2 separate regions of the Homo sapiens genome follow, and region 2 is linked to region 1. The links come from fine-mapping of genetic effects on gene expression. A gene starts in region 1. The other region holds a variant in brackets. All regions are shown on one strand. Distances are from middle to middle.

Evidence for each region. PIP is the estimated chance that this variant, and not a neighbour inherited with it, causes the effect.
Region 2: its variant is the best candidate, but not a certain one, in a credible set for the expression of NLK in tibial nerve (GTEx, PIP 0.59).

The regions. Positions count from the first base shown.
Region 1 is chr17:28,034,318-28,050,182 of GRCh38, reverse strand. It overlaps NLK (nemo like kinase), which reads right to left and starts at 7,506. Exons shown (of 11, transcript NM_016231.5): 1 at 6,852-7,506. The coding sequence starts at 7,309. It overlaps LOC105371709 (a long non-coding RNA gene), which reads left to right and starts at 8,463. Exons shown (of 3, transcript XR_934637.4): 1 at 8,463-8,586; 2 at 8,779-8,957; 3 at 15,722-15,865. LOC102724517 (a long non-coding RNA gene) reads right to left here and starts at 6,845. Exons shown (of 2, transcript XR_001752820.2): 1 at 3,352-6,845; 2 at 1,257-2,266. RefSeq lists silencers at 8,119-8,348, 8,369-8,598 and enhancers at 8,766-9,060, 15,369-15,865.
Region 2 is chr17:27,971,101-27,986,965 of GRCh38, reverse strand. The region is part of intron 2 of LINC01992 (long intergenic non-protein coding RNA 1992); the gene reads left to right. Among named protein-coding and RNA genes, the nearest start is that of LINC01992, 13 kb to the left of the region's middle. RefSeq lists a cis regulatory region at 1-196 and enhancers at 10,212-10,341, 11,569-11,863. The variant T/A (reference allele first, on the strand shown) is at 8,125.

The DNA of each region.
Region 1 (15,865 bases):
TCCTCTACACGCCCTTAATGTCCAGGGACTATCTCTATTGCTGCATTTATGGCAATGAATTATAATAATCCATTTACAAATCTATTTCACCCAGTAGGTCATAATCACCTTTAATCCTTATCTCCAGCACAGTGCCTGGCAAATAGTAACATACAATAATTGAATATTGTAAGAACAAGTGAAAATAATATATATATTTTTTGAGACACAGTTTCACTCTTGTTGTCCAGGCTGGAGTGAAACGGCACGATCTTGGCTCACTGCAACCTCTGCCTCCTGCGTTCAAGTGATTATCCTGCCTCAGCCTCCCAAGTAGCTGGGATTATAGGCATGTGCCACCACACCTAGCTAATTTTGCATTTTTAGTAGAGACGGGATTTCACCATGTTGGTCAGGAGGGTCTTGAACTCCTGACCTCAGGTGAACCGCTCCTCGGCCTCCCAAAGTGCTGGGATTACAGGCGTGAGACACCATGCCTGGCCTGAAAATAATATATTCTTAAGTTTTTATTTAATGGTTTCAAATTTAGTTTCACCTCTCCACCAAGGCTGAGGACACCCTGAGAGTAGGCATGTTTCATTGTTCATATTGTTTACTTGACTGTCAACTCCTCCAAAGCAATATGGTGACTTAAACATCCCTATACCTCAGTACTAAGCACAATACAGACAACAGCAGCAGCAGCTTAATAGAGGTTCGCAAAATTATTTATAAGACTAAATATCCCCATTTGGTGCTTGCAAAAGTGCTGGTCCACAGCGAAGTGACAATAAAAATATATAGACTAGTGAGTTCCAAAGGTGTTAAAAACTTTCACTGCCTCATAGTAGATATGACTCAATTAGCCAAATTATTTCAAAACTGGGTTTAGGTAAAGAGCACCAATCATTATGAGTGGCAGACATCCCCATATATACTCCCTCTACTCACACCATTACAACTAAGAGTTAAAGTTCAATCTCAGTAGAGTTCACTTAGAAGTCATCTTTCCATAATGCCAGAGTACCAGTTTTTTCTGTTTCTGCACTAGGTACCTTACAACTACTGACTATGTCTATCATGACTTGTTATGTGCTCACTGACAGTGTTACAACTGTTGCCTCAGACACTCTGTTACTTCCAAGCAATATCAGGATCACACTGACAAGCTATTTTAGTTATTGTTGACCTGTATTAGATGGCCCAATCAACAAATAATTCACTGGAGTAGCACAGAGGCACAGGGACTCAGAATTAAAACCCAAAGAGACGCATAATTAAAGAGCTTCTAACAGCTTCTGTCCATTTATTGGTTGGATGACAAATGAAAAAGTTTCTTTGGCCTTGACAATCTCCATCAAAGAAACCAAATAAGCATGTTAAGGAAACATACAGTATATGAACAGTTAATTCTTGTATTGCTTGGACATCAATAAATCTAATAAAAACGACCAAGAATAGTCACTCAGTTTTACAATATAGAAGGCAGAGAAAACTCTGACACTCCAAGTTGTGAAGACAATGAAACATTCCAGTACTCCATTAGAGGACTTTTTGTATCTACAGCTGCCTGTGCTTTGAAGGTAAAAACCCAGAATTTAAATTCAAACATATTCAGTTAATGCACTTATGCATTTTACAAATTTTTGTTCTGGTATAGCATATGAAAGGGAGCTATATCTGCCCCCATTTCTCTTTTATGACACATGCCCAGTGGTACTGATGGCTAAAAAGATGGTATTTAATGTTGAGGGATATTGTTCTAACTTGCTTGAAAGGGCAATGTTTCTGAAATGCCTTAAAAAAAAAAACTGTCTTTTTTTCTAAATTAATATTGGACAGTATAACATGAAATTTCTCCCCAAGAATAAAACAAGTTTATTTTTTGTGCTGTGGTTTTTTGAACATAATTTGGATAATCTTTTCAGGAGTCTAAGTACAAAATGACTTGCAACGTTATAGGCTATGGAGTTTCAACCACCAAGAAGTGGGTGCAGAATCATCAGATTGTTACTTTTATTCTCTACTCTTTATCTACTTTATGATCATGAACCTGTAATTTCCAAAAGTAAGTTCGTTTGTAGTTAAAATTAACAATACAGATTTCCACATTTCTAGTTTCATACGGATGCTTTGTTATGTCTAGAAGAGCAACCGTTTCCTTTTTATGGTGCAGGCTCTGCTTCTTCAAAGCTCTTTTCACAAAGCAGAGCCCCCAAAGAATCCAGCTGTGGCTGTTAATCTCGGCTGATAGTGGAGAAACTTCTCAGTACTACAGATTCTCAACCTGTAAAACACAGTTAATAACAAAATACCCTTTAGTATACTACTCTTTCTGATGCAACTTACTCCAGGATTTTCCCCAAACATATCCCAAAAGCATTCTGCATTTTTCCAAATTAGTTTGTTATGTGGAGTAAGAGGACCAGACAAAACATAAGAAAAAAAGATGCCTCTCATGTTCACAAGATGAGCAAGCTAGACAATCTCTACCATGCACAAGGGCTTATACTGAGTAATTTTTTTGTTAAATCACTATATTTCTCCCACCTCACTGGGATCTTTAGCAATTCACACTTTTTCATCCAAACATAAGCAAAGTGAATCTCTACTTCGACAATAAGGATGTCTTTCATTTGTTACATTCTGAAAAGAAAAAATTAATTTCCCAGTATATAAATCCATAATACTTTCTAAAACAGTGCAGATGATCTGACTAAAACACCTACAAAGTCCATACAAATGTGTATTATTTTTATTTGTTTTTAATTAGTTGACAGGACAGCACAGAGTATTTTCCCCTTGGCTTTAAATTCAACCATTTTCAAATCTCCCTGACATACAGTACAACTGAGGGGACACGCTACGTTATTTAGAGTCATGCCTCCAAAAATAGTCTGCATGCTGATTTCACCTGATAAATCTGACAATCTATGAAGACACTTCCATGCACATTAACACAACAGCTTGATTTTTCTACCAACAATAACTACAATAAAAACAACTAACATTTATTGATGCTTACTGTGTGCTAGACAGTGTAATCATTGGTTTACAAGAATTACCTCACTTAATCTTCACATCAATCCTGAGATAAGTACTATTATTATCCCCATTTTATAGATGAGGAACAGAGAAGTCAAATAATTTATCGAGATCACAGAGCTAGTAACTATCACTACAGTTTTGAAAGACAGATAAAAGTAACCTGCTGAAGTTATTAGAATAATAAAATTCAAAGACCTCCAACATTACTTGGAGTACACAAAGGCAACAGAGCAAGTGAATCCCAGGATTTTTGATCTTTTAATTAATCAGGCAAGTCACAAACCAAAATGCTAATTTTATAAAAAAGTCTTTTCCCAGACTCACTTTTACCAAGGTGGCAATATGTGCCATTAATTCCATCTCTGATATGTTAAGTTGCCAATGTCAAAAACGGTCTAGGCACAGCGATCCTCAAACCACTCTCATGCGGTCAACTTCCTCCATCTCTCAAAATTATGAGCCCCTGAAACTCTTTGTCCCAAAGTTGTTACATCTTTAACCACAGCATTTTCCTCTGGCAAATGTGAACTGCAGACAAAAAGGTAGATTTATATTACTCACCAAATGACTGAAGTTACTATTTGTGGGTTGCTTTGTGTTTTGTTTTTGCATTATGAAAATGTCCATGTGGGTGTTTGGAGGCTGTAATGTCTCAAAAAGAAGGTCAAATTGTATATGATATCTTGATAACCCATAAACAACATTCTATCAGTGGCAACAAATGTTATCTCAGGTTATCCCACAATCACATTACCAGGTAAACTGGAACTCTTACTTTGAGATAAAATACAGCAGACAGTTGTTAATGAAACCTTAATTGAACTGTCACAGCACCATCCTTACCAGCAAGCTAATGAGTAATTCACTACTTTTACACAACTGTCCAATACTGATAAGTTATTCCACTAGTTAAATTCAACAGAAAGATAAATCAAGTCAGCTAGACTAAATTGTTCAGTGATAAATCTGGTAAAATGCTGCATCACTTCTACAAATATCTCTCCTTGTCTACATGGAGAAACAACAATCTCTCTCAAAATTGCATGCCACTTTTTTAGCCATCAGTTAGTACCCCTGGGTGTATGTCCCCAAGGAAATGTGGGCAAATACAGTTTCTTGTCATATGCTATTCCAGAAGAATACTTGCAAAGTGCATTAAATGAATATATGTTTGAATTAAGTGAATCTTATAATACCCCGGTAGTTAGTTACATGGCGGTTTCAATCAAAGGATGCATCACTGGGAGAACATTTTTATGTTCCATTATAATCATTTTAGAAAAAAGTTGTTTCCAATTCATAAGGTGCTTCCTAAATTAAAAAGATACATTCTGTTTCAGTTAAAAAGTAAAAAACCTCACTAATATCTTTACCTTGGGTTTCAGAATATTAGTGCAATTCCCGGTAGTTTGGTTTTCAAATCTCTAAACAGTCTTACTTAGGTCATACAACAGTTAAATTTCAAATATAATAAGGAATTCAGACAGCAAGTCATTGACATGTAAATATAAAAATAGAAAAGCATTTGCATACTAAAACATACACCTGGAACTCTTTCCTTTTTCATACCAAATTGTATTTCACCTGTAACAGCTGATGAAAACACTCAATGCAGTTAACTAGAAAAACTTGGTTAAAAAAACAAAGACCCGAATCACGTGATAACACAGGAGGACGGCCATCCACAAGCCAAGCAGAGGGGCCTCAAAAGAAACCAAACCTGTACCTTGATATTGGATTTCTAGCCTCCAGAACTGTGAGAAATAATTTTCTGTTGTTTAAGCCAAAACAAAGAAGGACCTGACTAGATCAATTAACCAAGCAGCAAAGATGCCAAAGCACTGTGCTAGGCGCTGAGGAGAAAAGGATTACTACAGTAGACAATCCTTACCCTCAAGGGGCTTACGAATGTAGTCAGTGACACAAGACAAACCTGAAGTAAGATGGTGCACAGAGGTGTACTTTAAGTACATGAGACAAACTCCATAGGTGGTAGAGCAGTCAATCAATTAAAAACCTCTAGAATGGCTTCAAACCAAATATATGTGGGCTTTCAGATATCAAAGATTCATAGTACCCACTAGCAGAACGTTTGCTGTGTGAGATGTTTCAGCACTCCAGTTCTTTATTGCCCCCTTCCTTAAAAAAATAAATAAATAAAATAAAAACTGCTACAAGTCACATCACTTTTTGATAGAAATGTAAGTGAAAAATGCCTTTTGAATATATTCAAGAATGCTGCAACCCATTTCCCTTTCAGTATCCCTAGTTTTTAGCATTGTATGTAAGGCACTAAAAAAGAAAGTAAGCATCCAGATCTAAGAAGATCCAAACAAGTGCTAAAAGTTATTAGTAAATCAATGACAAAATTTAAACCAAGGAACAACCGTTTTCCTGTCTGTTCCATCCCCCAACCAAAGCTTGGAAATCCTCAAGAGTTAGGCAAGGATAAGTTCACAGTTAAATCTCTGAGATAGTCTGTGGAAGGGAAGAGAGGAAGGCAGGAACAGGCAGGTCCCTGAGCAGAATGACCAAGGCACCATTACCAGCTATACTCTTTTCCACCTTGAATCCCACACACCTTGAAGAAAGGACCACGCTGCAGCAGAAACTTCCTTGGGGACTAGCTGAGAAAACACTGGACTCTACTAGTTTTTTTAAAAAATGGATGAGATCACTTAGCAGCCTAGATTATCAAATCTGAAATATAAATAAGATGGCCAGTTAAAATGCATAAACAATGCACCCATCAATTTTAGCCTCAAAAACAATGACGAAAGGAGATATTTACCGGGCTAGTTCCAAAGAGTTCATTTTCCTGTGGTAATGGGCGCTTTTCTCGGGAGTAACAATTTTTGAATGCACTGAAAATATCAATTCATCTATCCAAAGTGGAATCATTAGTCCTTGGGAGAAAACCCAGTTCATTCTAGTTTTGATAGGAACAAACATATTTTATTATAAACTACTAATCTTTCTAAGGTTAGACCAAATAGACCAAAATGTTATATTTAAGAAGCCCTTAGGCTTTTACAAATATCCTAGCACTAGCAAAGGTAGGGTCATTTGTTAAAAAAGTATTATTTCCTACTACAGCAACTGACCAACAGATAACAGCAACTTAAGAGGCACTAAATGACACTAAAACATTACACTGAATGTGGGCCACTGCATAGCTAGTCTACTAACCTCATTTGTGGTACTCATGTGTGATGCTATATTTAATGCATTCTTATCAAAAGGCTACAGCTACATACTTCTCAACTGTAGCTTTATGGTTTAAAATAAACCACTCAAGCAATGATCTTAACTGGTTCAACTATGAATCCTATCTTTCTTCTGGAGATCAAGATCACAAAATAAGTGAAAAGACAGAAAGGACAGGAAAGTAGTTATGCAAAGTATATCCTAATGACAAGAGTATTATAAAGGAATTCAGTCTGGATCAGGTGCTAACACTTAATGCCACAGGGCCACTGAATCAAACACACGAGATGACCAAGGTCTTCGTAGGAATTAGTATTGCATACATTCATCTACTGATCCTGTGTTCAGTGGCTTGCTTAGGTTCTAATAGAAAAGTTTGGTAGACAGCACACTTATGTGTGTTGCTCATGAGAAGGCGCTCCACCAAAACTTGCCATGAGCCTAGACAGCCAATGCATTAGGCCTCTTTACCACATAAGTGAGGGTGGCTTCCTACAGTTGGGTTGAGAAGCTTGCTGCACCTTGGTCAACATGGAGACAACCATTAGAGATGGACTCATCCAATGACAACCAACAGAAGAAACCATGAGAGGTTGTGTTTTTCTTTGGATACTCACCAGACAACACCAAAGGCTCCATATCCAATAGGTCTATCCGGCTCAATATCCAGCTGCTGCTGTGGATGATGCGAGTGCTGATGATGGTGCGCCTTAACTGTAGCAGCTGCGGCAGCCTGTACCTGAGCTGGGGCTGCTGCAGCTGGTCCAGGAGCCTGCCCCGGTGCCGGTGATGGGAAATATGGCTGTTGTTGCCCAGGGTTTAACATGGCTGCAGCTGCAGCCGCTGCTGCGGCTGCCGCAGCTGCCGAAGAGGTGTGCTGCTGTACAGGGTGTACAGCGGCAGCCGACCCCGGATGAAGATGGTGTTGAGGGTGGTGGTGGTGGTGCAGGTGAGGAGGAGGGAGGTGTGGAAGGTGGTGGTGATGGTGGTGGTGGTGACCTGCTGCTGCTGCAGATGTACCGCCATTGTAAGCCGCCATCATTTTTGCGTTGGCTCTTGCGCCACAAAGAGACATTCAAAATAAATGCCCTTTGATTGGAAAGCAAACTGGGTCAAGCTGTCATTTGGCCATTTAAAAATGAAGAAAAACCACTCACTCCACCTCAAAAAACATAGAGCTTTATGTCTTCATCAGTCAATCCAAACAAGTTAGAGGATCTTGGTGTTTAATTTTGGGGTGAGCGTGTGTGGAAGGGTGTGGGTTGCCAAAAGGAAAAAAAAGGGAAAAAAGAAAAGAAAAAGGAAAAAAGGACCCCTTCCCCCCAGGATTCCTGCCACAAGTGGGTACTAAAACTCCATTCTTAATTTGGGGGAGGTTCCAACTTTGAATGTGGGAATAAAGGCCAAACCTCCCGACCCCCTGAACTCCACACACGAAAAGGATCAGGTAACACACCACCCTTGGAATCTTGAAAGAGGGTTGACTCATCTACCCCTTCCATTCCCACATCCTTTTCTAAACACCTACCACCTCCTCAAAAACAGGATTAAAAAAAATTCCCACCACCCTAAATGGAGAAGATGGGGGGAAATTTTCTGGGAAACCAGCTTCCAGCTTCCCCCCCCCCGAACTCTCAGGCCTTCCTACATCTCCCCCTACTCCTAGTCAGGTTGACCTGATTGGGGAGGGGGGGCGGGGGTTCCAAACTTTCCTGGGCAGAATAAGCCAGGGAAGGAGGCTGGAGTGAGGAGAGGAGGCGACAGCAGGACAGAGAGGAGAAAGAGAGCCGGGGCAAAAGTGAAGGGAAGGAGGTGCAGGGAGGAATGAAAGATGTGGGCAGCGCTCGGACGCCCAGACGGAGGGAACCGCCCCGGGAGAAGGTTAGGGTCCCGGGGCCAAAGAACAGGAGCCCCGGGAGGCGGGCGGGGTACGGTCGGAAGCGGGCTGACTCCTGCCCCCGCCGCCGGCTGCTTCTGCTGAGGAGGGTTGGGGGGGAGAGCGGGTGGGTCCCCCGCGCAACGGCCCCGCAGGGCTCAAGGCTGCTCCGTCTCCCCCCCTCCCCCCCACCCGGCTTCCGTCCCCGCGGCCGCTTTCTCCTCAGCCGCCGCGGCCGCCTTCTCCTCAGCCGCCGCCTCCTCAGCCGCCGGTTCCGCCGCGGCCGGACTCACCTCCCCTAGCAAAGCCGGATAGAGCGGAGCCAGCGTCGGACACGCGCAACCAGCCGCCGAGGCCCCGCCCCCGCCTTGCACGGACCGGCTGCCCTAGCCAATCCACGCCCACCTGTCCGCCACCGCCTCCAATCCTGGGCCAGGAGCTTCAGACAGGCGCACTGTTCGGCCAGTGGCAACAAGGTGTGGGTCTTCCGGGGAAATCCCGCCCCCGATCCGGGATGGGCAGATAGAAAGACCAATCAAAGGCAGAGTTTGGCTTGACCGACAAGGCTTAAAGCCAATTAAAAAGCAAAGATCTTTGTGACATTTTTCTTTCGCCTCTCTCCTCTTTTCTTCTTCTTCTTTTATTATTTATTTTTTTTTTTTTGGCAGGAGCAGGAAGCTGCGTGGTAATCCCGCCTGCAAAAGCTGGAAGAGAGGGGCGGAACGAAAGAACCAATCATGAGCCAGAGACAAAGAACAGAGTAACCAATCCTTGGGTTGAAAATGAAGTGGGATGGAACCTGGGCCAAATAGACACTTGAAAAAACAAATGGAAAAAAAAGGTTGATGTAAGTCCCACCCTTTAGATCTCCTATAGGACAGGATTGTGGAGAATTTGCTGTCATATCGAGACAACCTCTTCAAGGGGCGGGGCTTAGGGAAGGGGTGGGGTCTTAAAGTGGGCGGGACCTAGACGAAGAAGGCGGAGTCCAAATCATCACTGGTCCACTGATCCGAGATGTCCAATATCCCACTTAAGATGTAAAGTGTGGGGTAAAAAATAGGGGAAGAAAAAGGGAATGTTGAGCTTCAGAAACTCAAGGTCCAAGGTCACTCAACAAGAAGACAAAGGAAACTCAAAAGACTGACAGAAACTCAGTAGACTGACAGTTCGTAGTCTACGGCCGGTCCTCTCCATAGTTAATCCTGATCTTGGCAAAAAGAGGAGGAATCTCTGGCATTCAGAACTCCACTGTCGACAAATGATAAAGCTGTTGGTGCAAATTAAAACAAAAAAAGTAAACTTGACCACAAAAATAATAATTTTCCTCTATCTTTCTTTCTTAACAGGGTCACATTCTGTCACCCAGGCTAGACTGCAGTGGCACAGTCCTAGCTCACTGCAACCTCCAACTCCCGGCTCAAGCAATCTTCCCGCCTCAGCTTCCCGAGTAGCTGGGATTACAGATGTGCATCACCATGCCCGGCTGATTCTTTAATTTTTTAGAAACAGGGTCTTAATATGTTGCCCAGGTTGGTCTCAAATTCCTAGGCTCAAGAGATCCTCCCACCTCCCACCTTGGCCTCCCAAAGTGCTGAGATTACAGGCGTGAGCCACCGCCTCCAGCCTCTCCCATATTTTCTATCAAGTAAGTTTCTGTCATTGAAATCTTACTAAAATAGCATCTTTCCATCACTTCATTTATCTGAATTTACCCTTCCTTTAAAATGTGAAATAATAAGCTTACAGAACCTTATCCCTACTGAAACTGTATAGTTTACTCAAAAACTTGGAAGTCATCTTCGATCCCTCCTTTGCCTGTCCACATTGTCCCTTCCAATCTATCAGTCATCAAGTCTTCTTTTTTTTTTTTTTTTTTTTGAGACATGGTCTCTGTTGCCCAGGCTGGAGTGCAGTGGCATGATTACAGCCCACTGCAGCCTCCACCTCTTGGGCTCAGATGATCCTCCCACCTCAGCCTCCCAAGTAGGTGGGACTACAGGCACATGCCACCACACCTGGCTAATTTTTGTATTTTTTTGTAGAGATGGGGTTTTGCCATGTTGCCCAGGCTGAATCATCAAGTCTTAAACAATTTTAAATCCCCCTCACTTCTGCTACTTCCCAGTCACACAGCATTTACCCAAATTTACACCACTAACATCTTTAACCATTTCCCTGCCTGCAAGCTAGCTCTCCTTTGATCCATCCCCCTCTGGGGGCATAGTAAATTTTTAAAAATACAAATCTGAGACCAGGGGCAGTGGCTCACACCTGTAATCCCAGCACTTGGTGAGGCCAAGGTACGTGGATCCCTTGAGTTCAGAAGATCAGTCTGGGCAATGTGGCAAAACCCCGTGTCTACAAAAAATACAAAAATTAGTGGTACACATGTCTCTAGACCCAGCTACTGAAGAGGCTGAGGTGGGAGGATAGCTTGAGCCAGGGAGGTAGATGCTGTAGTGAGCTGAGATCCCACCAGTGCACTCCAGCCTGGGTGACAGTGAGATCCTGTCAAAAAAAAAAAAAGGCTGGCTGTACCCCTAAATAGCCTGGCATGATCTGGTTCCTGCCTACCTACCTCAAGGGTCTTATCTCTCCCTTCCACTCCACACTTCAGACATTCTGAACTTCCTGCAGCTCCTTGAATGCTTTCAAGCCTTCATGTATATCTTCAGCCCAAAACATTTCCCGCTCATCCTTCACTGCTCTAATTCATCCCTCAGGTCTTCGTGTAAATTTTACTTTTTTTCCTGGAAAGTTCTAACTCTGTTCTAGAGTATACGTTTCTGTTGTATATCTCCATGACACTGCCTCCCTCATATCGATATTTTAAGTGCTTGTTGAGTTTGACCGGGGACAGAGAGCTTGTCTGTCTCACTCAATGTTGTATGCCCAGTTCCTTAGGACAGTGCCTGAAAAAAAAGAAGACACTTGCTACAGATTTGCCTGAATTACTGAGTGCAGAAGTGGGTACAAACCCAAGCTCTGCCATTTACTTACTCTATAGTTTAGGCAACTTAACTAACCTTTCTCAATCTCAGTTGCCTCAACTGAAATAATACATGACTCATGAGGTCTATATGAGGGTTAAATGAGGTGATGTATTTAAACGTGCTTGGCAAATAGTGAAAATGCAATATAAATTCTCTTCAACACTCACCCTCATGTAATATTTGAGATGTTTCCAATTTTCCAATGCACAGCACTCTCCTCCAAAGTGTAGTTTCCTAAAAGCTTCTTAGATGTTCAGCAAATTATCTGGTTTCACCTCAGACCTACTGAATAAGAATTGGAGGAGGAGAGGAGGAATCTGTTTAACAAGCTCTCCAGGTCATTCTTACAAACGCTAGAGCTTAAGAAGCACAGGCCTAGAGTAAAGGAGCTTAGTCTTTGTAAACTTTCTTTTTCAGCGCTTAGTATAGTACTATAATAATACATAGAAAGTGCTTGATACATGTGAAATAAATAAATTAATCTAATCCACGAGAAAACAATTGTACATTAAGAGTTATTTATTCCTTCCACAAACATGTATTAAGCACCAATTATATCTAGGCATGGTGCTAACTTCAACTGTGGGGGAGAGGAGATAGATGTACAGATGCTTCTGGACTCATGATGAGTTTGTGTCCCTTCTTTTTTTCTTTTTGAGACGGAGTCTCGCTCTGTCGCTCAGGCTGGAGTGCAGTGGCGCAATCTCGGCTCACTGCAAGCTTCGCCTCCCAGGTTCATGCCATTCTCCTGCCTCAGCCTCCTGAGTAGCTGGGACTACAGGCGCCCGCCACCACGCCCAGCTAATTTTTTGTATTTTTAGTAGAGATGGGGTTTCACCATGTTAGCCGGGATGGTCTCGATTTCCTGACCTTGTGATCCGCCCGCCTCGACCTCCCAAAGTACTGGGATTACAGGCGTGAGCTACCGCGCCTGGCCGAGTTTGTGTCCCGATAAGCCCATCGTATGTTGAAAATGCATTTAATACCCTAACCTACTGAACATCGTAGCCTAACCTACCTTAACGTGCTCAGAACACTGACATTAGCCTACAGTTCTGCAAGATCATCTAGCACAGTCTATTTTATAATAAAATGTTGAATATCTCATAATTTATTGAATACTGTAGTGAAAATGAAAGGCTGAATGGTTGAGGCCGGGTGCAGTGGCTCACACCTGTAATCCCAGTACTTTGGGAGGCTGAGGCAGGCAGATCACGAGGTCAGGAGATAGAGACCATCCTGGCTAATGTGGTGAAACCTCGTCTCTACTAAAAATTCAAAACATTAGCCGGCCTGGGAGGCTGAGGCAGGAGAATGGCGTGAACCCAGGACGCGGAGCTTGCAGTGAGCCGAGATCACGTCACTGCACTTCAGCCTGGGCGACTGAGCCAGACTCTGTCTCAAAAAAAAAAAAAAAAAAAAAAAGCAGAGTGATTGAAAGGGGACTCAAAGTACACTTTCTACTGAATGGGCATCACTTTCAAATCATGGTAAACTAGAAAAATCATAAGTCAAACCATCCTAAGTCAGGGATCATCTGTATTAAAGTCTCTGCCCCCAGGAGCTCTAAGTCTCTCTGGTGCAAGAATTTCCAAAATGGTGTGTGCACACCATGGTGGGGGGTGCACAAAGTGACCCACTAGGCTCCTGGAAGAAATTAGTACAATTTCTATTTCATTTTTTAAATTTCATCTTTTAAAAATATCCATTTTGTCAATGTTTTATAATGTACATAATATTACAGAGTAGCACAAATGTATAACATTTATGAATAAATAAGAATACACAATTGAGGAGTTGTGCTCAAAAATTTATCAAAAACATTGGGAAATCATTGGTCTGATGATCATTTAATAATGTTCATGGTTTTAGACATGAAGTCCTTGCCCATGCCTATGTCCTGAATGGTATTGCCTAGGTTTTCTTCTAGGGTTTTTATGGTTTTAGGTCTAATGTTTAAGTCTTTAATCCATCTTGAATTAATTTTTGTATAAGCTGTAAGGAAGGATCCAGTTTCAGCTTTCTACATATAGCTAGCCAGTTTTCCCAGCACCATTTATTAAATAGGGAATCCTTTCCCCATTGCTTGTTTTTGTCAGGTTTGTCAAAGATCAGATGGTTGTAGATATGCGGCATTACTTCTGAGGGCTCTGTTCTGTTCCACTGGTCTATATCTCTGTTTTGGTACCAATACCATGCTGTTTTGGTTACTGTAGCCTTGTAATATAGTTTGAAGTCAGGTAGCGTGATGCCTCCAGCTTTGTTCTTTTGGCTTAGGATTGACTTGGCAATGCAGGCTCTTTTTTGGTTCCATATGAACTTTATAGTTTTTTCCAATTCTGTGAAGAAAGTCATTGGTAGCTTGTTGGGGGTGGCATTGAATCTATAAATTACCTTGGGCAGTATGGCCATTTTCATGATATTGATTCTTCCTACCCATGAGCATGGAATGTTCTTCCATTTGTTTGTATCCTCTTTTATTTCATAGAGCAGTGGTTTGTAGTTCTCCTTGAAGAGGTCCTTCACGTCGCTTGTAAGTTGGATTCCTAGGTATTTTATTCTCTTTGAAGCAATTGTGAATGGGAGTTCACTCATGATTTTGCTCTCTGTTTGTCTGTTATTGGTGTATAAGAATGCTTGTGATTTTTGCACACTGATTTTGTATCCTGAGACTTTGCTGAAGTTGCCTATTAGCTTAAGGAGGTTTTGGACTTCATGTCTAAAACACCAAAAGCAATGGCAACAAAAGCCAAAATTGACAAATGGGATCTAAATAAACTAAAGAGCTTCTGTACAGCAAAAGAAACTACCATCAGCGTGAACAGGTAACCTACAGAGTGGGAGAAAATTTTTGCAATCTACTCATCTGACAAAAGGCTAATATCCAGACTCTACAATGAACTCCAACAAATTTACAAGAAAAAAAACAGACAACCCCATCAAAAAGTGGGCAAAGGATATGAACAGACACTTCTCAAAAGAAGACATTTATGTAGCCAAAAGACACATGAAAAAATGCTTATCATCACTGGCCATCAGAGAAATGCAAATCAAAACCACAGTGAGATACCATCTCACACCAGTTAGAATGGCGATCATTAAAAAGTCAGGAAACAACAGGTTCTGGAGAGGCTGTGGGGAAATAGGAACACTTTTACACTGTTGATGGGACTGTAAACTAGTTCAACCATTGTGGAAGTCAGTGTGGCGATTCCTCAGGGATCTAGAACTCGAAATACCATTTGACCCAGCAATCCTATTACTCGGTATATACCCAAAGGATTATAAATCATGCTGCTATAAAGACACATGCACACATATGTTTATTGTGGCACTATTCACAATAGCAAAGACTTGGAACCAACCCAGATGTCCAACAGTGATAGACTGGATTAAGAAAATGTGGCACATATACACCATGGAATACTATGCAGCCGTAAAAAATGATGAGTTCATGTCCTTTGTAGGGACATGGATGAAGCTGGAAACCATCATTCTCAGCAAACTATCACAAGGACAAAAAACCAAACACCTCATGTTCTCACTCATAGGTGGGAATTGAACAATGAGAACACATGGACGCAGGAAGGGGAACATCACACACAGGGGCCTGTTGTGGGGTGGGGAGAGGGGGGAGGGATAGCATTTGGAGATATACCTAATGTTAAATGATGAGTTACTGGGTGCAGCACACCAACATGGCACATGTATACATATGTAACTAACCTGCACATTGTGTACATGTACCCTAAAACTTAAAGTATAATAAAAAAAAATAATGTTCATGATTTAGATCAGTGCTGTCCTAGAGAAATGTGAGAGCCACATATGAAATTTTGTGTTCTAGTAGTCACACTAAAAAGTTAAAAGAGGCCAGGTGTGATGGCTCACACCTGTAATCCCAGCAATTTGGGAGGCCAAGGTGGGAGGATCGCTTGAGCCCAAAGTTCAAGACCAGCCTGGGCAACATAGTGAAACCTCATCTCTATCAAAAAAAAAAAAAAAAAATTAGCCAGGCATGGTGGCATGTGCCTGTAGTCCCTGCAACTCAAGAGGCTGAAGTGGAAGGATCACCTGAACCCAGGGAGGTTGAGGCTGCAGTGAGCCATGATCATGCCACTGCACTTTAGCCTGAGCAGCAGAGTGAGACCTTATCTAAAAAAAAAAAAAAAAAAAAAGGAAAACAAAATTCACTAGCCACATGTGGCTAGTAGCTACTATATTAGACAGCCCAAATCTAGATCATGGGTTTGAATCCTTAATCTGTCCCTTACCAGCTATGTGACCTTGGGCAAGTTCCTTAACCTATCTTAGTGTGAAAAATTTCCTTGTCTGTAAAATAGAGAGGTTCCCTGACAGATGCAGTTGTGATAATTCAAAGAGACAATCCATGGAAAGCACATAGCCTGGGGCTTGCTAGCAGTAAGTGGGATGGTTATTATTAGTACAGGTATTACAATCGAAGGCAAAGTGTCCCAAGTGTCCAGTGGAGAAATCATCTTGGGCACCACTCAGTTCATGTCCCCAGCATTCCATCCACGTGGAGTGGCTGGCCCCTTAAACACATCACCAGACAGTACAATTTCCGGCCTTTTCCATTTTGTTCCATTTTCAGGAGCTGAGCATGAAGAACGAGAAGTCGGAAGTGAGTCAGCAGGATAGCACTTAGAGCCTAAAAAAGCAAGCAGGACATCAGAATGCATAAGCAGGAATATAATGTGCAGGAAGTGGGAGGTGATCTTCCCTTTCTTCCAAGAAC
Region 2 (15,865 bases), 63 kb after region 1:
CCATAAAGTACTCACAGGCGTGGGCAGGGCCTGGGGAACACTGTTAAGAGTGCAAACAATAAAGAGCTGTCACAAAAGACAGAAAATGGTTTCTTACAGTCATAATTATGCTTAAAAAAAGACAAACTGACATTTTGGTACATTTCCTTCTAGATGTCCTTCTTTGCGTATTTTTTTTTTGTAGAGATCGTAACGCATACATATTTGAATCCTGCTATTTTTATTCCACGTAACATAAACTTTTGCCCACGTTGTTATAAACTCTTTAGCGACATCAGTTTAATTATTGAATAATACTCCATTTATGGATGTACCATAGTTTATGTAACCACTCCCTCATTGCTAAGCATTTAGTTTCCAATTTCTCCCCATTATAATCAAGGTACTCTGCTCAGAAGATCTTTGTGCATTAAACTTTTTCCATTTTTTTAGATTATTTCATAAAGATAGGTGATCAGGAGTCAAATGCTCGGTCTCCGGGAGTGATAGTCTTAAGATTCTTTTCTTAAAAATTTTTTTTAAATAGAAAAATTTTTATTTTTAAGATTCTTGAGAATATATTATTGTTAATTTGAGAAATGTTCTCATTGTTCTTCAGAATCCAGGCTCTGTGTTCAGACAAGTGGTGTGCAAACGCTTGTTCTGGCATTTACAGTATGGACTTGGCCACCTTGGTTGACCTTCCTAAGTCTCAGTTCCTTAGCTATCAATTGAGGATTATGACTGCACCCTCCTCATGGGACTGTTGTGAAGATGAACAAATAAGACAGCAAAGCTCAGTGCTTGGCACAGAGTGTGCTCCCCACATATTAGCTAGTACTAATTTGCTTATCTTTGGTTATCAATGAGGAAGGGCCTTTTCACTTCTGCCTATTGTCTGTTTCTGTGTGTGTATGTGTGTCTAAATTAAGATATATGGTTTTAAGGTGAAAAATGAAATCATAAGGGACTATTTATTAGGTCAATTAGCAGGCATATAGCTCTTTTTCCCCCCTTTTAGAAAGGGTGCTGCCCAGGCTGGCCTTGAATGCCTCAGCTCAAGCGATCAGCCCCCTAAGTAGCTGAGACTACAGGTGCACACCACCGTGTCTGGCAAATATAGCTCTTTCTCAGGGTTCATCTAACCTCAAAGAAGAGCAGATACTAGTGCTGTACAGTTTCTACCCAGCATTTCTCCTTTGGGCTAGTTTTGGAATCTATCATAAGACTTATCTTTCTCTTTTAATGTTTAAGACTAACTACATTCTTAAGTATGATTTTTATTGTGTGAAGAGAACCTGTGGGAATACATTGCCAATTGTGGAACAAATTCAGAGACAGAACTAGATTTGATTTCCAGAAATCTGTAGTACTGCCGACCTCTCTAAGAGCACATTTCTCAGCAAAGCAAGAACTCCCAGGGCAAGAATCCTGTCCGCTGGGGACAGCTTTAGCCCCTTAGGAGCACGGAGCAGTCCAAGCAGCCGCTGCAACTTCCCCTCCCACTGACGGCATCTATAAATCCATTTCCTGTCTTGTAATTATGTCTCATGTGGTAATTAGCCCCTTTATATAAATGAAGCCAAATTTCCTTGTGTAATGGACTGAAGCCCAAGTGTATGCGAGGAGTTGAAATGCCGCTTTGGCAGGAGGGGGGCCTCTGAGATCTCCTTGGGGGCAGGGAGGAGAGCCCTCTGTGTGAGGAGTCTACACTGTGCCAGGCGCTGTGCTGGTACTTTGCATGCACCATTCCATACCCTCCTCACACTGATCCTTCCTTCCGGGCACCTTTGCCTTTGCTTTTATTGTCCAAGGCCAGCTTCTGTGCACTCTTCAGGTAGAAAATCAAAACCATCAGTGGTACTTAGATGAACACGTGACTCTACATGCCAAAGGCTCTGCGGGGTACAAGGAAGGAAGTGCTGTAGGAACCAGCCAAGGACAGCACCCCTGAAGCCTTGTTCCTTCCTGGAATTTCACGTGGCCCACTGACCCTTCACAGCCCTGAATGTGCACAGGCACGTGTGGAGCCAGCATCAGGGTGGGGCTTCAGGATGCCAGGAGCCCAGAAACCAGCGCAGGCACCCAGCTGTGGGAGGAACATTTGAAATATTGCTGTAGCCCTTGGGAGGACAAGACAGGGACACAGGGGCAGAGACAAGGATGGAGGGGGCGGTTGGAAGAGGTGGGTGCAGGCTTATGCCCTTGAAAAGGGAATTTGGGACAGTGAAGAACGAGGCCACATGTCCCTTTACCCCATCTCCCTCTATCTTCTTTCTTTTTTCCTTTCACTCTTCTCAGGCATCTCCTTCCGATAATCAGGCTGCATTTGCCGGCAGCCGGGGGGGGGGGGGGGTGCGGGGGGGAGGTGTGTGTGTGGAATTCACGGTCTTTTAGCTTGGACAGAGAATTAGAGGGGGCAGTGAACACAAATTGTCAGGAAGGCTAAGAAAAGAGTACGGAGGACATTGGATTAGCCTTGAATCTTTGAGCAGGCTACTTAGATGCTGCTAAGTCCCTTGGGGTCCTGATGTCTAAAATGGGGATAATAATTGATGTCTTGAACACCTCACTGGACTGAGGAGGAAGTGGAATAGACTCGATTTTGATTCAAGGGAATGTCTGAGTATATACTGGTTTTTCAGGGATGTGCCTGGGGAAATACGTATAAATGCATGTTTATATGTAAGTATGCGCACATTGCCCATTCCACATACACATGGTCAACTGAATGTATGTTTTTTTTGTCTTTTAGGAATTTAAAACCACCACATATAATAATAAGTACTTACTACTCATTAACCACTTACTCTATGCTAGACCCTATCTCAGCTCTGTACATATATTTCTTATTTAATTCCCTAAATCCTATGAGGTAGGTATTATTAGCCCCATTTTACAGAAGATAAAACTGAGGCACCAGATTAGGATGATCACTCAAAGCTATGGACCTAGTAAGTGTTAGAGCTGGAACTTGAAACAGGCCTGAATTTCCTAATCTTTTGTCTTAATTGCTATGTTGTTTCTAATAATCTGGGCTTTTCTTTACATCTATAGGCAAACATTTTTGGACTCAGACTCAGATACCATTGCCCCAAGGCGGACTCCCACTTTCTCATCTCCAAGTGGCTCTGATACAAAGTGATCTAATGCTTAAAATGAGAAAGGCTTTGAGGGTGTGCCGTGACTTTCATCTCTGCAGAGCCCCAGGATGTTTCTCCAGCCCCCTTCTCAATATGCAGGGAAGAGAAGCCTTAGACGGGCTTCAGGCTCAGGACAGCAGTGTCAGGGGCTCTGCGTAGGGGGTGTCCCTTCTAGAAAATGGCTCTGGGATGGCTGCTTGTGGACAGGATCCTGCTGCCTGTCTCTCTTTCCTGCCTAGTGAAAGCTCTGGGCCCCTGTGCCTTCTCCTTTACCTGCTTCTTTCTTCCTGAACTGGTGCCCTCTGTTTCTAATTACATGGAATTCTAGAGGGGTTCACTACAAGTCCAGCTTCCGTGCGAGCAAAAGACCCTTCTCCATTTTTGCCAGCAAGTTGGCAAGAGCTGTAGGGTAGGAGTGATGCGGTGGGCTCTAGAGCCATGGGTTCAAATCTTGGCCCTTGGCTATGTCACTCAATTTCTCAGGCCTTCCTTTTCCTCCTCCTTTTTTTTTTTTTTTTTTAAAGAAGGGGGCTATAACACCCATATTATAAGATTATTGCTGGTATTAAATTAATACATAGAAAGAACTTGGGACAGTGCTTTATTAAGTGCTCAGTAGCTCTCATTTTTACCCCATGTCAGATACTTCACTAGGTGCTGCATGGACACAATTCTCATTTAGATCTCACAACACCCCAGTTAAGTAGATGGAAATAAGATCTCCATTCTGCAGATGAGGAAACCAAGGCTAATGGAAGTTAGGGTCACATAGCAAGTAAGTAAGAGAGCTAGAATTCAACCAGGGCTGCCTGACTTCAAGGCTTATTCTCTTAATCTCTTTATCACACTTCAGGTCTCTCAAAGGCCTCCTTGTAAAGAAATTCCCACATATCTTTCTTATCTTTTTCTGGGACTTCCTAAATAAAACCCCTGGAGTCCAAGGGTAGCTGCAGCTATCTCAGGTCACATGATGAAAGGTGGGGGCAGTGTGGTGCTGGGTGACCTTGTGGTGAGCTGAACCCTATGATTGCCAGAGTCCGCCCCAACATGAATGCTGGGGACTAAACTGACTGGTAAGGAGTTCCCGTCCTCCTGGGGTGTCTGGCAGAATCAAGATGAGGTCTGAAGGGTCTTCAAGGAGTGAGAGCAGACAGGGTAAAAATAAACTTTCACATTAATCCATTATCCTAATGATCGTCCTAAAGATAAGCTTGATCAGATATGAGCATTGCTGAGATTGATTTGCCTAAAATAAGGATCTCATTTGCATTTTTCTGATTTTCCCCTACTTCATTTAGCCATATTAAAAGACAGCTGCAGCTCTCACCAAGGACAAACATTTGAAAGACATGGATATTGCCTACATGTATTTATGGTGCTTAGGATCCTCCCTACCCGCCTGTGTGTGCTATAATCTCTTTGATAGAGGAGAGGAGGGCAGATTCAGGAACCTCAAGGTGATAGCTCTGGCTTTCCTTTGATCACATTTTAAAACTTACATATTGGTAGAACCAAAGACTCTGCCTGGGTGGAAAGGATTGAAGAAGACCCCAATAATCTAGAGTCTAAATTAGAAAATTTAATTTCGCATATCTCTTTCATTAATTATTCATATCAGCCCTAAGAGATAGCTGGGGCAGGCATTTTTATTCCCATTTTACAGATGAGGAAACTGAGCTCCAGTGAGGTTAAGGTATACACCTTAGGCTATATGCCTTGCCAGTAGTGTCTAAGATCTCTTGACTCCGATGCCTGGGCCACAAACCTTCTGACTTCTAGGCCAGGGTTCTCTGCTAGTGGACCTAGATGCCTGGTAACAGCTCTGGGAAGAACCACTTGTCTCAGAGGGAAAGACTCGATCCTGGTCTTACAGGCAAGACCACACCTTTCATCAATTTGACCTCCAAAGGTTGTTTCATGGAGCAGACAAGGCCAGTGAAAATATCCATGAGCTGATGAGAAATGTTTGTGTGTGCTTCTTGGCAGAGCTGACCATGGACAATAAAAACCCATAAGGCCATTGCTGCTAAGCTTCAGAGAGATCCCACTGATCCTTTTGCTATCTTTGGCCTGAGGGCTAGTCAGGTGGACTACCTTTTGAGCGGGAAGAACTTGGAACGTGGGATCAGAGTCATGGATTGAGTCCTGGCTTTGCATTAATGTCAGCTGGTGTTTATAAAGGTGCCTTCTGTGAATAATTTATTATGTTATTTAATGTAGTACATTAGTATTTAAATACATTATTTAATACATTTATCTAGTACATTATTTCACTTAATACCACAGCACTCCTATGAGGTGATACTAATGTCATTGTCCCCATTCCATGGATAGGAAAAGAAATTCATAGACATAGAAGGTAAATAACTTACCCAAGCTACTCAGGCTTGTTCTCTGTAATTCCAAATCTTATTTTTTTTTTAATTTTAGCTGCTTCTTCTTCTTCTTCTTCCTCTTCTATTGAGATAGTCTTGCTCTGTTTAATTTTAGTTTCCTCCTCCTCCTCCTTCTGTCTCCTCCTTCTTCTTCTTCTTCCTCTTCTTCTTCTTCCTCTTGTTCTATTGAGACAGTCTCACTCTGCTTAATTTGTTCTTCTTCTTCTTTCTCTTCTTATTCTATTGAGATAGTCTCACTCTGTTTAATTTCCTCCTCCTCTTCCTCTTCCTCTTCCTCCCCTCCTCCTCCTCCTCCTCCTCCTCCTCCTTCTTCTCCTTCTCCTTCTCCTCCTTCTCCTTCTCCTTCTCCTTCTCCTTCTCCTTCTTCTTCTTCTTCTTCTTCCTCTTCCTCTTCTTCTCCTTCTCCTTCTCCTTCTCCTTCCTCTTCTTCTGAGACAGTCTCACTCTGTTGCCCAGGCAGGAGTGCAGTGATGTGATCTCTGCTCACTGCAACCTCCACCTCCTGGTTCAAGTGATTCTCCTGCCTCAGTTTCCCAAGTACCTGGGATTACAGGTGCATGCTGCTATGCCCAGCTAATTTTTGTATTTTTAGTAGAGATGGGGTTTTGCCATGTTGGCCAGGCTGGTCTCAAACTCCTGGCCTCAAGTGATCCGCCTGCCTCAGCCTCTCAAAGTGTTGGGATTACAGGCATGAGCAATTGCACCTGGCCTTTTTTGTTTGTTTGTTTAAGATAATATATTTACTTGGGTCCAAATTCAAAAGATACAAAAAATAAAACAGTAAAAAATCTCCTTCCTACTCTTGTCCCCCAGCCACTAGTCTACCCTCCTGGAGGCAAACAGTTTTAGCAGCTGCATGTTTTCTTCCAGAGATTTGTTATAAGTATATAAGCAAATAGGCAAGTATATTGTTCCTACTGTTTTTGTATGTGTGGATGTATAAATCCCTTTGAATTGAATTGAAGAGGCGTGGCTAAAGTTCTCCATATAAGACAATAGTATGATTTGATAATAATACAAAAGCAGTGTCTTTAGTTAAACATACTCTATTCTTTAAATTTTCTGACCTTTGCTCTTGTTTTTTCCTCAGTACAAAATGCTTGACTCCTAACTCACACTCCTCACCTGCCAAGCTCCTTGACACCCTTCAGGATGCGGCTCAGACGTCATCTCCTCTCCAGCAACATTCCTCAACCAGCCCCTCTCCCCCTTAAAGATGATTCATTTCCTCCTTTGTATTCCCACATTTTTCACATTATGTAATACTTATTTTTTAAACTAACTGTATTCCTAAAGATAGCCTGATAGGTCCCAGGAGGACATTCATTCATTCAACATACACACACGCACACATACACACACACATGCATGCACAATATATCTATATACATACATATACCATATATACGTAATGTATATATATATTATATACATTATATATACACACACACACTCTCTCTCTATATATACATATATATATACATATATACACATATATATACATATATACATACACATATATATACACACATATATATATACACACACATATATATACATATATATATATATATACACACACACACACATATATATATATACACTTGTTTGGTGAGGGTCTGCTCTTCTTTTTTTTTTTTTTTTTTTGAGACAGAGTCTCACTCTGTTGCCCAGCCTGGGGTGCAGTGGCGTGATCTTGGCTCATTGCAAACTCTGCCTCCCAGGTTCAAGTGGTTCTTCTGCCTCAGCCTCCTGGGTAGCTGGGACTACAGGCGCACACCACCACGACCGACTAATGTTTGTATTTTTAGTAGAGACAGAGTTTCACCATATTGGCTAGGCTGGTCTCGAACTCCTGACCTCGTGATCCGCCCACCTCAGCCTCCCAAAGTGCTGGATTACAGGCATGAGGCAACGTGCCCGGCCAGTCTTCTCTTTTTAGTTTTGGTGGCAGCATATTAAATACACCAGTCTGCACCTTGCTTTCTAAGAAGCTTTTATTGCAGGAAAATTTCACACATACACAAAAGTAGAAAAAACAGTGTGAACCCCCCATATAGCCATCAACCCACTTCAACAATGATCCACACTCGGCCAATCTTTTTGTATCTTCACTTCCTCTCCCTCTCCCCCTGATTATTTTAAATCAAATCCCAGGCATCATATAATTTCATCTATTAATTCTTCAGCATATATTTCTAAAAGAAAATTACCTGAGAAAAAACACAACCTCTACACATGTAAAAGAAAACAATAATTCTTTAATACCATAAGCTACCTAGTCAGCATTCAGATTTCCTTGATTTTTTTTCTCTCTCAACAAATGCTGTTTTGTTTGAATCAAAATTCAAGTAAGGTCCACACATTGCATTTGGTTACTTCCCTTGCTTTTTATCACGAACAACACTCTTAGAGATGATTTCCTACCAGAACATAAAGAACTACTTTATTCTTTTTCCCGTTGCAGAGTATTCTTTGTATGAATGTCCTAGAATTCATTTGACCAGCCTGTTGGTGGACGTGTAGGTCATTTTCAACCTTTTGCTATTGCAAACAATGCTGCATTGAATAACTTGTAAGCATGCCATTTTGCATACGTGGGAGTA[T/A]ATCTGCTAGTTGAATTCTTGGAAGCGGAATTTCTGGGTGAAAGGATATGTATGTTTGTAATTTCAAAGATTATTGCTAGATTGGCTTCTCAGAGGTTGTACCCATGGAACTGATAACTTCCACCAGCCATGTAGGTGAGACCCTTTTTTCCTGTACCCTCCTCAGAAGCACCATCCCATCTCTGGCTTCTGTCCATGCAATTCCCTTTCTCTAGAAGGTCCTGTCTCACCTTGTCTATCTGGTGAATGCTTATTCTTCAAGGCTCAGGTCAAAGGCCCCATCGTAGCATATATCCCACTGGGTACTCTTTATGACTCATCTCTCCTCCATTGCACAGTTAGGTCCTTGAGGGTGCAGACCAAGGCACACAGTAGGGGGCTTCCCTAAACTGGTCTAGAGAGGTGCTGAAGGACTGAGAGACTAGGGCATAATCTCTAGGTCTTGTTCCAGTGGGAGTTTAGGGACTTCTGCTCAATTTCCTTGGATGGAGCAAGCTGAGTCATGGGTGCATCACCCACTTTTGGAACCCTATGACCCCTAAGTATTGGAACCCAGAATAAAACCAAGTGCTACATTGCCCAGCCCCAGATGCCTGCAACAGATGGCATGGCATGGCTGAGGCTGGGGGTCTGATTATCCCAGACCTGTACCTCTGTGGATTCTGACCTTTCAAATTGTTTTCTATTTAATCTGGGCTGGAAGACCTTGCTTTTTGTTGTTTTAAAATCTTTGCTCTCTTCCTACGCCACAAATGAAACTGTCATCCTCCAAATTACTATGATCTGGAAGGGCAGGAGCAGAATTAGGCCCCACAAAAGCAAGTTAGGCGGGCAGGTGGGAGTAATCCTGTGTGCCCGAGGTGGGGGAGGGTGCAGCAGATGGCTCCCCAGGCAAGCCCTAAAAGCCAGGATTAAAAAGTAATTTTCAGCATGCTGAAAATGGGACTGCAGATTTGGGTCACTGCAATTAACTCTTTCTCGGCTGCAGGCAGGGACCTTGGAGCTGAGAAGAGTTATCCTGCCTAGGGGAGCTGCCAGGTGAAAACCCCCTTGGTTTCTCCTCCTTAGGCCTCAGGGAGAACAGCTCCTGGGTCTCTTCTTGAGAATGGAAGTCAGGTCTGCAGGGTATGCTTCTTTCTGGAGACTAGCTTCCTGCCTCCCCTCTGAATATGGCGTCTGTTGGAGGGAAATCCCCCCCAAGGCTGTGGGAGGCATTTCACCTCAAGGGATTTGATTGTTGTATCAGAGGCCTAAAGTGGCACCTCATTCTGTTATCAAAAGTACATCAGGCATTTGCCCCACAAAAGATTAGGTGCTTTTTTGCCAATTACTTCCTGTGCTAAAAAAAACTACTGTTTTTACCTCAAATACAGTTTTTCAGTATCTGTCCCTGTCCCCACTACCCCAACTGCCCAACAAGAATTCCTTTATCTCAAAAGCCAATGCATTAAATTATCTTCCTGGAGGAATGATTTTATTTTGCATTCTTGAACTGTGGTATTGCAGCCAACGGGTTTTCCCTTTTCTCTTTGGTTGCCAGGAAACTCGAAGCCTCAAATTCAAAAACTAAATCCATGACATCCATTAATGCATTTTATTTTTCCCCTTATCTTATTATTCTATTCTAATTCACACATTCCTTGGTCCTGATTTTATTTACCTGTTTATATTGTGCTATATTATCGAATGCATATCCTGTATATCAAATCCTTTGTGCAACTAGGTAGAGTATAAATAAGTAAATGCAGAAATAATTTCATACATAGATTAATTTGTTCATCTTTTAAAATAAGCATCTGTTAGGTGCTTAATACTGTGCTTGAGTGACTGATAAAATAAAATGCATTTAAACATTTATCACCTATTATGTATCAGGTATTATGCCTAGGACATTTTATGTCATCTATTTTAATTTATTTCCAACAATAATCTTATGATATAAATAATTACATGAGTTGGAATACATAAAGCATTTAGCCCAGTGCCTAGAAAGTACCAGATAAGTAGTAGCTAGTCTTATTAGGTATCATTATCTTCATTTTAAAAAGGGGAAACTGTGATTCTGAAAGGTTAAGTTATACCATTGCAAGAGTTTAATGAAAAAAAAAAGTACCAGGAGCATGGTAGATAGTAGGTGTGGCAGACATTTGTTGTCTTTTTGGCTACCCAGAATCCATTGTACCTTATTTCAGTAATAGTTTCTTTCTTTTTCTTTGTGAAACCTCTCCATACCGCATTTGTAGTTTGTGAGCTCTGGACCAGGCTTCATTTTCACTCCAGGGGGTGAGCAAGTGACTCAAGCGTGGCTGACCAGTGCTCTGGATTCCCCTAGCCACAGCCGTTGGTTCAGGGGTGCAACTCATGACCTAGATTGGTCCAAAGTGAAGCCTAGGATTTGTGTGAGTGTTTTGGGGGAAGAGACTGGTTTTCCTTACCAGTGGATGGGAGCTTGACAGTTGGTATATGCAGCACATGTATACACAACTGGAGATTAGGCAGCCACCTTTCTACCCTGAGTAGAAAGCCCACAATGGAGCCAACACCGAAAAAGTGGAGGCTAGAGATGGAGAGAGCAAAAATGGGTCCTGAGGACATTGCTCAGCCCCCTGGAAGTCTACAAGGTCTCAAGCCTCACCAGAAGCCTATAAGGTCTATTCCAGGATCATTTGATTGCTGAAACGATAAACTGTTTTTTTTTTTTTTTTGCTTAATCCTGTTTGAGTTGGGTTTCAGTCATTTACAAGTAAAACAAATCCTAACTTATAAAAGGCATTCATTATGTTACAAAATTTTTTTTTAGAGACAGGGTCTTGCTCTGTCACCCAGGCTGGAGTGCAGTGGTGCAGTCATGGCTCACTGTAACCTCAAACTCTTGGGCTCAAGGGATCCTCCTGCCTCAGCCTCCCAAGCAGCTGAGATTACAGGCACGTGCCACCATGCACAGCTAATTTTTTGTTTATTCTTTGTAGAGACAGGTCTTGCTATATTGCAGGACTTGTCTTGAACTCCTGGCCTCAGCAATCTGGAATTCAATCTGGGAGGCCAATCCTTGGCCTCGCAAAGCACTGTGATTACAGGTGTGAGCTACCACATCCTGGCCCTCAACGAATTTTTGCATCTTTCCTTTTCCATTTAATGGACTTGCCCAGTGGCATAGCTAGTAAGTGGCAGCATCAATATTTGAACACAGTTCTGGCTCAGGAGCCCATGCATATCATGTTCCCTGCCTATAGGAACTTGGACTCTAGTTAAGCTCCCAGACAGAGACAAATGAAACAGGTGGGTGATGAGTCAAGGCGATGACAGTGGGCCATTGGGCAAGTTACCAGCATAGTCCTTCTGGAGTGCCTTCACCCTGCACTCTCATCCCCAGAACCTTTGAAAGGTCTGGGAGAAGCACAGATGCAGATTCGCAGACATGCCAGCTGGCTCTGCATGTTTCTATGCACGGAGCTGATGCTTCCTCTGCTCATTTAAAGGAGAAAGCTTGCCCAGAGCAGAGGCTGAATGAAACAGACACATCCACACCACTGGACCCTGATTCACCATGTGACCTCTTTGGCTGAGTCATCTCCTCTCCTAAAATGAGCTTTCTCATCTGCAGAATGAAGGTGAAGCTTGACAAATGAGGTGCAAATGAGATCTCATAAATAGTTAGATCAGAAAGTTGCTGCTGGATAGCCCTACCTGAGCAACTGCAGGACTTGATCTCTCCTCTCCAGCATATCTGAGAGTCATCGAGTTTGTGAATAAGTCCAGTCCTACATCATCTCCACTGCTCTGGAAAGACCCTCTGCTCCTCCAACTCAAGGCCTTGTGTGGCCTGCACTGTCACCACTGACCAGACTGCCCAACTGTAGCACTGCCTGCCTCTGGGTATTAGCATGCTGTACTGCTGCCTTGGACCTCTGATGAGAAAGGGAGGTCCCTTCCCCAGTCCTGTTCTGGTGGAGAGATTCAGTAGGAAGTTGCCTGCTTTTCGTGCCCTGGTAAACTTGTAAGGAAAGAGGGACAGACTGTGAGCAATTGGGAGGGTTGGTGTGGCCCTGGGTCAGCAAGTTTGGCCACTTTCAGGACAACTCTCTGCCTAGGGAAGTACACCAAGCTACTCGCAGGAGGACGAATTACAAGCGTGGGAAAGATACTATTGTTACAGGCAGCACATTCGAACAAAATCAGCCTGGTAAGACAGAATTCTGCCAGGGAGTTGCTCATCCAGTTTTGCTCACTCTGGGCAATGGAATCCTCCCCCTAATAATCAGCTAGGACCTACCCTGTCCAGAAAATAAAGATGACTAAAAGATGGTGATCATTAATATTTTAAAACTGGCTCTCCAGAAAAAAATGTTTATTATAACTTTTGTATCATTTGTTTATTATAAATTTTTAGATATTTTACAGAGAGAAAGGATGTTGCTATTGACTGAATGTTTGTATCTGCTGCCCCCTCAACCAATTCTTATGTTGAAGCCCTATCCCCCGATGTGGCTATATTCAGAGATGAGGACTTTAAGGAAGTAATTAAGGTTAAATAAGGTTATAAGGGTGAGGCCCTAATCTGAAAGGATTAGTGTCCTTATAAGGAGAGACTCCAGAGAGCTGGGTCTCTCTGCCCATGTGCAAGCGTATGCACACTGAGGAAAGGCTACTTGAGGACAAAAGAGAAAGCGGCCCATCTACCAGCTGGGAAGAGAACCCTCACCACAAACCAAATTGGCTGAAACCTTGATCTTGGACTTCTGGTCTCCAGAATTGTGAGAAAATAACTTTTTCTTGTTTAAGCTACCCAATCCATGGTATAATATTTCGTTATGGCCGTCTGATCTGACTAATACAGATGTGAAGCACCCAAATTACAAAGAAGAGTAAACTATACAATGCTTTATTGTAAATTTCACACAGCCAACTGATTCTCACAGTGCTTTTGTTGACCTTTGTTGAAATCTTGTTTCCCCAGCCATAACTATGGTTTCAATTCAACCATGATTTGACAAAATCAGACTATGAATCAATGCTATCCAATTTGCCAAAGAAGAACTCACATCATTAACAAATGAGGATAATTCCAACAGGAATGTCAGTTGATAGTTTCATTTCCATTAAGGAGTCAAATGAAAGAAAAACAACAAACGTGTATCAGAATTTCATTTGTTAGTCAATGACATAGTGACTTCTTTGCTGAATCAGGTGGTAGTATTTGAATGCTGGAAGAATATTGCCTTGATTTTTTGGTACTAGTCACAGTGTAACAGTTACAGACACAACATGATTTTAAGTTTAATCTGCAGTATTAACATTTTCTCCATCATTATCTGAAATCAATACAATCAACAATTTCCATGGTGTAAATTCCACCGTGGCTGATTCCAACCTACCAGTGGTGAGTCATCGAATGTAGAGTGGGGAAGAGGAGATACACCATCATATAATCTTTTCATCACATACATACAGTAGATGTAAATAACCTTAAGAGCAGAGATGATAATAAAATATAGTAAAATAATTAGGAAGTGAGGAGTACTAAGTATCTTTGTTTTTAATGTAATTTATTTTGTTAAAAGTGTATATAATTAATTTGTAATGATGGCTGTGTATAATAACCAGCTTGCAAAATTCCTGAAAATTTAACAATTAGCTCTTTCGAGCTGGTATCAGCTAGCTCCAGCACTCCACTGTCAAGCAGAGTTGTGCCTGGCTCAAAACAAACTTGGCAAAGAGAACTAGATAACCAGATCAATTTTTCAGCCTACTAATACCTAATGAACTTTGTTTTTTAAGAGCTGGGGGGCAGGGTCTCTCTATGTTGCCCAGGCTCATCTCGAACTCTTGAGTAGCTGGGATTATAGGCACCAGCCTCTGCACCAGACTCCTAATAAATTTGTAAAGCCAGATCCTATTCCTTAAGTGATATGATTAGCCATGTGGCTGAGGGAGTCATTCTGGGCCTCTGTGGATCCTCTAGGACAGTGCTTCTTAAAGTGTGATCCTTGGACCAAAAACCTCATCATAACACTAAGTTTTTTTGGAAATGCACATTTTAGGGCTTGCTGCCAACCTGCTGAATCAGAACCTCTGAGGATAGGGCCCAGCAATCTGTTCCTGATGTTTCTGGTGCCTGTTTCAGACGCATCATCAGGTTTGATGTTCCTTTCTGAGGACTATAGTTTGAGCAGCACTGCTTTTGGATGTATCCCACATTGTTCTTGCCCCATGCTGTGGGCAATAGAGTGTAAGCTTTCATGTTCAGAATGCTTGTTACTGCTTCCAGGTGTGCTCAAAGTACAGTGGTTAGGAAAGAGTTTTCATCAATCTGTCCTTGTGCAAGGGTTCACCTCCATCCAATGCGCTTGCAAGATGATGGTAAGGTACAGGTGCTCCCAGAAGTCTCACTGACTCCAGGGCTCAGAGCATACGTTGTCTTTGTGCAATCGGTATTCTCCTGCACTGTGAATATAGCAGAGGCAGTTTAAATTGCTTTCCGTCAGGAAAGGGGCTTTCTACTTGGATTGTGAGCTCGGTGTAGGTGCTCCATTTGTTCTGTCTTTTGACACTGACTCTGACATAAAGTTAAACCTTCTTCCTTCTCTGTAAATTAGCTGAATCCATAGAAATCCTGGGTCAAATGGGCTTAAACAATAAGTCATTTTATTATTTTCCATAACTGAAGTCAATAGGCTTTGGGGCTGGTTGGTTTAGAGGCCCAGCAATGGTATCAAGGACCCAGGTTCTTTTCATCTTTCCGGTATGCCAACGCCATAGTGGTCCACCCTCCAGTTGCTGGCAAGATGGCTGCAGTGGTTCCAGCCATCACAGCCAGAGAGTACAAAGTCCAGAGCAGGGAGCTCTTACCTGGGCTCCACAGACAAACCCGGAGAGCCACGAACCTGAGTGGGAGAAAGAATTACACCACTAACCTCTAACTGAAATGTGGCATTTTCTTCAATTATGGATGCAGGCAACATCTATAGTGGTAGTAGTGTACTGTGGCTTTGCCACCAAAAGAAATCATATGTATTTTCATATAACATTACAATTACAAATATATCATAAAATATCATTTATACTCAATCCCACTTTGAAATTGTAGTAGTTATTAGACCTGCCATTAAATATTGATATTGAATGTGTTAATAAAGTATCACATATATTATTACACCACAAATATATTGTTTTAATATTTTAATACGTGGTTAAATTATAATTGTTTACATGTAATTTATTTTATATATTTTAAAATATTATTCTAAGAAGCAGTTCACGGAATTCATCTTACCACAAAAGGGATCCTGGCACCACCCCCCCACCAAAAAAAGGCTAAGAATTCTTGATGTAGAGGAAGAAGACAGGCCATCTCCTGCAGTGACTCTCTCTTTTTTTTTTTTTTTTTTTTTTTTTTGAGAAGGAGTTTTGCTCTTGCTGCCCAGGCTGGAGTGCAATGGCACGATCTCAGCTCACTGCAACCTCCGCCTCCTGGGTTCAAGCAATTCTCCTGCCTCAGCCTCCCAAGTAGCTGGGACTACAGACATGCACGACCACGCCCAGCTAATTTTGTATTTTTAGTAGAAATGGGCTTTCTCCAGGTTGGTCAGTCTGGTCTCAAACTCCTGACCTCAGCCTCCCAAAGCGCTGGGATCATAGGCATGAGCCACCACACCCGGCCTTCTTTTTTTTTTTTTTTTTTTGAGACAGGGTCTCACTGTGTCACCCAGGTGGCTGGAGTGCAGTGATGTGGATCTTGGCT